2 separate regions of the Homo sapiens genome follow, and region 1 is reported to be linked to region 2. Evidence: microRNA targets listed by miRTarBase, many of them from high-throughput screens and not tested one by one. Region 2 holds a microRNA gene; the other region holds the end of a gene's coding sequence.
What was found. The annotated mature microRNA hsa-miR-563 reads AGGUUGACAUACGUUUCCC and lies in region 2 at 2,406-2,424, shown strand. An mRNA with a match to its seed (bases 2 to 7 or 8) in the 3' UTR can be bound and repressed. Matches are read on the target gene's strand: a 7mer-m8 pairs with bases 2 to 8, a 7mer-A1 pairs with bases 2 to 7 and ends in A, and an 8mer does both.

Region 1: the mRNA of TMEM67 is a reported target of hsa-miR-563. Seed matches in the 3' UTR shown: 7mer-A1 at 2,373-2,379.

The regions. Positions count from the first base shown.
Region 1 is chr8:93,815,907-93,820,313 of GRCh38, reverse strand. TMEM67 (transmembrane protein 67) reads right to left here. Exons shown (of 28, transcript NM_153704.6): 28 at 2,193-3,942. The coding sequence ends at 3,862. Among named protein-coding and RNA genes, the nearest start is that of TMEM67, 63 kb to the right of the region's middle.
Region 2 is chr3:15,871,417-15,875,823 of GRCh38, forward strand. It overlaps MIR563 (microRNA 563), which reads left to right and starts at 2,355; the gene lies at 2,355-2,433. It overlaps LOC107986064 (a long non-coding RNA gene), which reads left to right. Exons shown (of 10, transcript XR_007095831.1): 2 at 2,571-2,695.

The sequences.
Region 1 (4,407 bases), not on the chromosome of region 2:
CCCCAAACATACTGTTCTGTGTCCTTTTATGTAGTGATGAGTGAGGAATGACAAGGGGAGACAGGAAAGTTTCTTACACTCACAGGTCCTAGAAACAGATGGCACGGCACACCATGCACAGCCATGGGGGAAAGCACCAGTCAGGAGGCAGGAGCACCAGGAGCCAGGGCAGAGCCTGGGTGCTTACTGGAGTTTCTGAGGAAATGGCAAGGCAGGGTGGGGTCAACAGTTTGGGATCGGCTCGTTGGAATAATTTCAGTGTGCTCTAAACTACAGAGACTATCCCTAGTTGCCCGTTACCTGGTCCTGGGATGATTTAAGGAAGAGGAACATTGCCTCCTAGGGTTTCAGGGCCAGACAGAGGAGGTGTGGCTCAGGTCTATAGTTTGTATATCAAAGGTATGCTCCCACCTGAGTTCTTTGCTGTCTAAAAGAACTGGGGAGCCCCAGGAGGGACAATCACTCCCCAGAAGGGAAGGTTTCTTAAAATGACAAAACATCTTATACAGACAACTTTTAAAATATAAACAGTACATGTACTCTGATTCAAACTGCCCGTAGTGCCCCAAACTGCCATGTGCTGCTTTGTCTCTGAGCACATACTGTTCCATGCTTTGGTTGCACTTGTTTTTTTTTGTTTATCTTAAAATCTTAGATCAAATCCACTTCTCTGAGGTCAAAGCCCTGATGACCCAGAAGTACAGTTAAGAGCTTTCCTTATATCACACCCCGGTACTGCAGCACGTTTCATATTGCTGTAATTACTGGTTAATTTACCTCTTTCTCTTACAAATTATAAGACCCTTCTGAGGGGCTGGGGAGTGGGAAGAGGTAGAAACATTGTTGGAATGAATGAGCAAATGAAAAAAACCCTCCCTCCCAGAGACAATACTCCACTCTTCCTGTTCTCTCCACCCTCTATCACAAACTGTGTCTCCCACAGGGGTGTTGTCTTCTTTTATGTTTTACATCTATCGGTGACCTCTATCTGGGCCTCTTCCTGGCAGAGCTGGGGGTGGCTGAGGAAGAAGGCAGGCTCAGAATTTTCATTGGTCAGTTATTGAGATCAGTAATCTGAGTTTTAATATCATATTATTAATTTATTAGCAAGAAAAAAATATATTTTGGGGCAGATATTTTAAACTAAAAATAAAAATTCCAGCATTCATAGTTTACTCAATGTTAAAAGCACATTCTAAGAAACTAATCCTGGCCATGTGTAGTGGCTGACACCTGTAATCCCAGCACTTTTGGAGGCCGAGGTGGGTGAATCTCTCGATCAGGAGTTCAAGACTAGCCTGGGCAACATGGTGAACCCTTGTCTCTACAAAAAAAATACAAAAAATTAGCTGGGCATGGTGGTGCACACCTGTTGTTCCAGCTACTTGGGAGGCTGAGGTGGAGGACTGCTTGAGCCTAGGAGGCAGAGGTTAGAGTGGGCCAAAATCGTGCCACTGCATTCCAACCTGGGTGATAAGAGTGAGACCCCATCTCTCTCTCTCTGTCTCACACACACACACCCACGAAACTAATCCTTACAACAAGTGGTAAGCAAAGGATATTATTTTCATTGCAGAGATGTAGAATGAAGCTCAATGATGGCAAATGACTTAGTTCAAGATACCAAAGCTTATGAGTGATGGGCAAAATTCTAATTTGAATCCAGGGCTTCTTTTGCTAAATTTGGAGCACTTTCCATTAAGCCACACTCCTCACTGCTCCTTGACTTACAGTTATTTCCCCTCAGCTTATATTTGTCAATATTTACAAAAAAAACACATGCTTCATGCTTGTAAGTGCTGAGTTAATGATCATTTTGAATGTTCCTCAATGTAGGTCATCAGCAAAGCCTTCTGAAAAGGCAGTTAGGACAGCAATGCCAGAGAAGGAAGCATTTACAAATCTCCCATAACAGAGGCACTGGTCTACAGAAGTATTTTAGGGGCCTGTATGTTTCTAAGGAGCATCCAAAGTACACAACAGCTTATAAAGAACCTCTCTAGGTTTTGTTTCATTATGAAATGAAGAGAAATCAAATGTTTCTAGAAAATCAGTAAAATCAGGGATATAAGAGTCAAAGTATAGTGATTGGGTACTACAGAAATAGACAAAGGGTAATGAATCTAGTGAATAATTATGCACATGATCAGGAAATGTAAATTGTGACAATGTGAACAAAGGAGTCGACAGTGTATGAAAATCTGAACACATTTTTATGCACCTAGCCAAAATAAAAATATCATACAAAATTTAGAATGATTTTAAATGTTTTCTGTTTTAATTTATCAGCAAGTAAGCCAATTGATCCTTTATTGTGAAATTTAATACTTAAAAACTTTTGCACTAAAATTAACTTCTTCTATGTTGAATGATGGTTGAATTTCTTTCATATGCTTCTGAGTGAGTGGTTTTAAATATCCATGCCATATAAGTACATGTATTTATCTCTGCAGCTTTTATAAAGGCATTCCTGTACTGTGATCCTTCAGAAACTGCAGTTTCAAAGACTTCCTTTTCAGTCATCCTCAAGATTCAGGGAAATGTAAAAGATTCAACTTTGGCAATGGCTGGGACCTCTGCCCCAATAATGTTATATTCCTAAATGGTACTCCATCAGATATACATTAATGAAACAGAAAACAGAAATACCAAATGTTTTAGTATATATTTTCATCTGAGAAAATATAAATAATATTTATACAGTATTCCATTTTAAGTATTTACACAGCATTAACATAGAAAGCAGTGAGAAACATGATACATTTACAGTGTTTTGTTTTTGTTTTTTCTGAGACAGGGTCTTGCTCTGTCATCCTGGCTGGAGTGCAGTGGTGCTATCTGGCTCACTACAGCCTCCACCTCCTGGTTTCAAGCTATTCTCATGCCTCAGCCTCCCAAATAGCTGGGATTACAGGCCACCACATCCAACTAATTTTTGTATTTTTTGTAGAGATGGGGTTTTCCATGTTGGCCAGGCTGTTCTTGAACTCCTGACCTAAAGTGATCCACGTGCCTTGGCCTTCCAAAGTGCTGGGATTACAGGCGTAAGCCACAGCGCCCAGCCTTACTGTTTGTTATTTACAGTCTTTAAACGTAATTGAAAAGCAAAACTCTGGAAGAGAACTCTTAAAACATTAAGTAATTAAAATGTATAAAAAATGATATTGGGAAAAATGTCATACGTTATAACTTAATAAATGTAAACTATATTAGAAATGCAAATATATTTCATGGAAAGCGTATACTGACCTAATACAGGTATACAAAGGAATGAAAAGATATCATTTCATGAGATGCATATTAACCCAACAGTGAATTAATCCACTGCCAAAGAGGATGAGCAATTAGAATGATGCAAATTGAATCAGCAATAATACAATTTAAAATTTCTAAGTAAACTTGAAAATATCTTTCAACATTTATTTAACCATAAGCACACAAAACATGAAAATATCAAACTGAAAACTAGTCTTAAACTTGGAATCAAATTACTTTGTCAATGTGAGAAGATTCAGGCAGCTCTCAGTTTATAAAATAATCTACAGAGACAAATGATGGGGACTGTTTTAATTAGCATTAAAAAGTATTATGCTGAAAGCAACATTTAGATTTTTTTTGGCCTCACTGTCAGTATTAATTTATTATTTACTGCATTAAATACTACACACAATGGGAAAACAGTATTTTCTATTATATCAGGTTATATATTCCCAAGTTATAAAAATAAATCTTTCTGCAAATAAAAAACAAAAACAGAATAGTCTGCATTATAAGTTTTAAAAAATATGGCAAACTAACCTGATATCATGACTTTTTTTTGGCCATGATTATACTGAGTCTTTAAGTTATTTATTCAGGAAGTTAAATCAAAAATCTTTGATCCACCAATGTTTTGGATGCCAAATTCTTTTGTCCTACTGTATTACGGATATATCTAAAAATCTGGAAAATTAAAACAATTCAGAATGAAAAGAAATATAAACAGAATTAAATATGCACGTCGATTAAAATATCTAGATTAAATTAGCTAATTCTCTCAACTATTTTCATGTATCAGGTATCTGAATCCCATAGTGATACATAAAATTATTTCAAGATGATAATTTCTTTCATAGTTTCATAGTATGTTCCCATTTAGAGTAAATTCTTATGAATTAATAATACAAATTCTCTCATGTTCACAGAAATACACTTTAAAATATATAGAAAGGCAACTTTCTTCTAAGTCTAAAACTACGGAAACATCAAAAGAATCTACTCACTAGAGATAGAATTTCTTCACAATTCTAGATCACTGTCAAGGACTAATAAATTGCATCTTACTTATATATACTTCTTTGACATAGTGGAGAATATTTAGTTGATAATAACACCATTTCAAGAACAGATTTGCCAATTCTTGAAATC
Region 2 (4,407 bases):
GAACTCATTATAAGAAGTGAAGAAGTGGAAAAAATGAATACAGACAACTCTTCCAAGGGGTTTTGTTAAAATTAAGGACAGCAGTGATTTGGAGTAGTAGGGAGAGAGATGAAAAGCCTAAGGGAAGTTGTTTTTGTCTTTTAAGATGGGAGATATTATATGTATAGACTGAGGAGTAATTGAAAGGTAAAAGGGGGAAAAGTTGGTGATGCAAGAGAGAGTAGATACCTGCAGGCACAAAGTCCTTGAGAAGGCAGGAGGGAATGAGATGTAGTTCAGAAGCAAAGTATGTCAGGAACTCTGAAGGGTCTGAGATTTTACTGTATTTGTAAGCTAACAAGTTAGCCTGCCACTATTTCATGGAGGCTCAGCAAATGGGAAACTCCTGGGTCAAAGACAAAGGCTTTGATTTCTCACACCACCAGTTCCCTACACCCCAGTTCCCCAGATCAATGTGAAGAGGGCCAGATGACACCCGCATATGCATTGAGTTGCATTACAAGTGAGGAACTCTGAACTTAGGGAACCCGAATCTTTTATATTGGGCAATAAAGGTGTGTGCCCTTTGCTCTAGAGACATTGTTTTTATTATTTTGAGCAGTAAACATTCTTGCTGTTTGTTCCAGAGGGAGACACTATCTCTATCTTCCAAGGCTATGAAACATTCAATCCTTGATTACATAGTCTGGAACAAGGAAATTTAAGAGACTCTTAGAGAATTGTCTCTCAACAGAGTTTAGCCTTTAGTAAGAGCTTGGACACCTCATCCATTTTAAATGGTAGAGGGTGAGGGGTGGGGAAGATAGATTATTGGAAAAGATTCTAGTACCTCTTTTTTGCTTACTTTTATTTTTTTCCCTAGCAAATCAATAGATGAAGGTATCAGGTAAAATTTAGGAGTGGGCATCAAGAGTATATGGTTTAAAGAGAGATAGAGCTGCCTAGAAGAGAAGGAGAGGGTTGGCCAAGGAAATGTAGAATTATTGGGTACTGCTGAAGACACTCCTATAGTGTGTGATCATAAATTTAACCAGTCAACACAATTGCGATTGTTTTATCCAGGTTCATTTCATGCTTAAGTGCAGGGAAAGGTCACGCAGAGAGTTGGCTTTAACCAAGATTGGAGTTTTTTTTTAGGACAGTATGATGGAGAAAGAATGTGGTAAGGGCCTTAGGGGCTGTACACTGACAAACCCTTAATTAGTATGAATACAGTCATGGACCATGGAATCTAGGCTGGATAAAAAGGACAGTGAGGAAAGGAAGCCCCATGAAAAATTGATGAGGCCAAAGGATCAGAGTTCCTGCTAGGATTAAAGAAGAGTTAGAGTGTATTAGAATAAGTGAACTAGGAAGATAGAAGGAGGTAGTCAAATAATGGAATGCCTAAAATCAAGGTTTTAGAGTAATAGTATATGAGCATGGGAGTGGGTAGCTAAGGTGGGGTGGAGAAAAAGATCATTAGAGATGAGGAGTCAAGAAACTGAATGACCAGAGTGTCAGATGTATCATTTAGTGCTTGTTGAAGTCACCAAGAATAACAAGTCACAGTGGAGAGACAGGGACCTGTATGCTAAAATTTTGAATGAATGAGAGGAAATGACTGAAAGGTCAGTAGATGATTGCAACATAGAGGGGTGGCAGGTGCCATTGACTGATGGCAAACTATTCCTTTATTTAATAAATATTTATTTACATATGGCCAACTAATTACTGTGGGGAGAACAACTTACCACATCCTCAAGGATTACATGCTAATTGGAAGATAATATACTCCTCCATCAAAAACGAAACAGTAAGGCAAACATTGCAGTATGGTGAGGCAGAAATACCACTTGCCTAAGGGTCAGAAAATCCGATTTCTATTATAAGTTCCAGCTTTGTCAGTAATTAGCTGTGAGCCTGGGTAAATCAGTTAACCTCATTAGGCCTCAGTTTCCACATTTGGATACAGATGAGATGATTCTCAAGCTTCTGCAGGGCATAACATTTCATAATTCTATGAAATAAAATAATAGCTATTTCACACGGAAATTGGGGAGAATAAATAAGCACGACTGTCCAGATTTTACAGACAGAAGAACATGAACCACAAAGGACTACATAATTTGTCCAGCATCAGAATGTAAAGTCAGGTTCATTGTTGTTTGTGTTAGATCATATAATGCAGAGCAGATGGCCTAATCTGTGTTGGTGTTTGTCCACTTTCCTAAATTTTTGTTTGTCTTTCCGTTATCTCTATTTGGTTCTAGCTAGGTCATGATTGCTTATGTCAAAGAAACAAAGAAAATACGACAAGAATCTGTAACTGTAACAATGTTGTTTAACACAACTTTGAATACATTTTTACAGGAAGCAAAGAAGTGTGTTGCCCTCTAGGAAATGTGTGTTGCTCTGATGTAATTAGGTTGACATACGTTTCCCTGGTAGCCAATATAAGGAATGGGTCCACTAACCCTTGATATCAGAAAATTCTGGGGTTGGATTAGATGTCAAGGTTGGGAAGGATATTATTTGGGTAAAGGGGTTCATTAACAGTTTTTCCACTATAATGAATTTTTCCTTTATAGCTGTGATGTTACTCCTACATTTTTGAATATGTACAAGCATATTCAGTGATGCTTTGAGATCCAACTGTATGCTGGGTACTACTACTGTAAGGACTAGTGGCTTTGTGGAGAGCAAGAGAGCTAAGGTATGCGTCCTATCTCCTTTTGTTAATATATACTGAATGGCAAAGATAGACATAAACAAGAAAATGAATAAATAAGATATTTTTTCAGAGCATGATCAACATTATGAAGAATATAAAACAGAGTAACAAGATGTCTCTTACCATGTTTTGCATTCCCCGCATTTAGAAAATAAGTACCACAAGAGTTAGGACCTTGTCTGTTATATTTATCAATTATCCACTGTGCCTTGGTTAGTGAGTTTTGGCTGTGGACTTCTTTAGGTAGGACAGTCAGAAAAGGTATCTGTAAGATGCCCTGAGAGCTGAGAAGTAGAAAATAAGGAATTTTCAGCCAAAGATCTGGGGAAGAGCAATGTAAAATTCCCAAGGAAGCAACAAATTCAGCATGTTTAAGAAACATAAGGAAGGTCAGTGTGGCTGGAAAGTTGTAAGGGTAGAAGTTTGAATTTTAATTTAATTACTGTGATAAGCCACTATAGGTTTTTTTTTCCTTTCTTTCTTTTCTGGTCATGTTTTCTTCCTCTAATTTTATTTCCTTTTTTCTCTAAAGAATTTTAGTCAGGGATTTTAAATGACCTTATTTTTATCTTTAAAAGTTTACCCAGACAGTTTTGTAGGGAATAGAGTGAGAATAGCATGAGAAGAAGCAAGAGATCAGTTAGGAGATGAGTGTTGATAATGGGCTGGTGCAGGGGAAGAAGTATTGAGCAGTAATTGAGTTTGAGATATATTCTAGTAGGCTGTGTGTGGTGGTGCTTTGGGAGGCCCAGGTGGGAGGATAACTTGAGGCTAGGAGTTTGAGAGATACATTCAAAAGATAGAACAAACAGGATCGTTCAGCTGTTGTTCTTCAACTGTTGTTCGACAGCTGATTGATTGGATACGGAGTGAGAGAAAAAACAAGAAAGACTCCATTGCTTTGGTCTGAGTAATTTGGTGGTAGTAGTGCCACTAACAGGGAAACTGGGAGAGGAGCAGAGTTTTTCTAGGGAAAATCAAGCAGTTGGTTTTGTCCATGTGAAGCTTACAGTGCCTGTTAGATCTCCAAATGGATATGTAGATAAAATGGTTGATATATGAGTATGGCAAGATGTCAGAACTGAAGATATTATCCTCCTGTGAGTCATTGGCATTTAGATGCTATGTAAAGCTACAAGACTGAGTGAGCTCATCAAGGGAGAGCATGTTGATATGAGCAGCAAGGACTAAGCCTTGAATATTTTTGCCTTTGAAAAATACAGTATTCTATAGACTAGAAGTACATTATTTACCAGGCAAATCAGCCAGTTTTAAAAACCCACTTTGTCTTCCTCTCTCAGCAAGTAGTGGGAGGCCATCTTAGAAGGAAGCTATCCTGGTGAGAAGCTCTAATCACACAGCAGCCCCTGGGACTTGCCAGTATGTCATCAGATACACAAAGAAAGATTCTGGTTCCACTATGCCTCTCTCTCATCCTAAGTCTTCCCTGACTCTCCCAGGCCACAGTGATCCCTCCTTCTCCTAACTCTTCTTCCTCGTTACTTTCTGGACCTTTGCAGACTTTCTTCCTGGTGGTGTAGCTACTTATGCAGAGCAGATGCTCTAATATGTGTCTGTTTATCTCTATTTATACAAAGTTTGTATTTGTCTTCTTGTTATCTCTAACTAGGCAATGATTGCCTATCACCCCCGCTTTCAACAACATTATAATTTCCTCAAGGACAGGATATTCT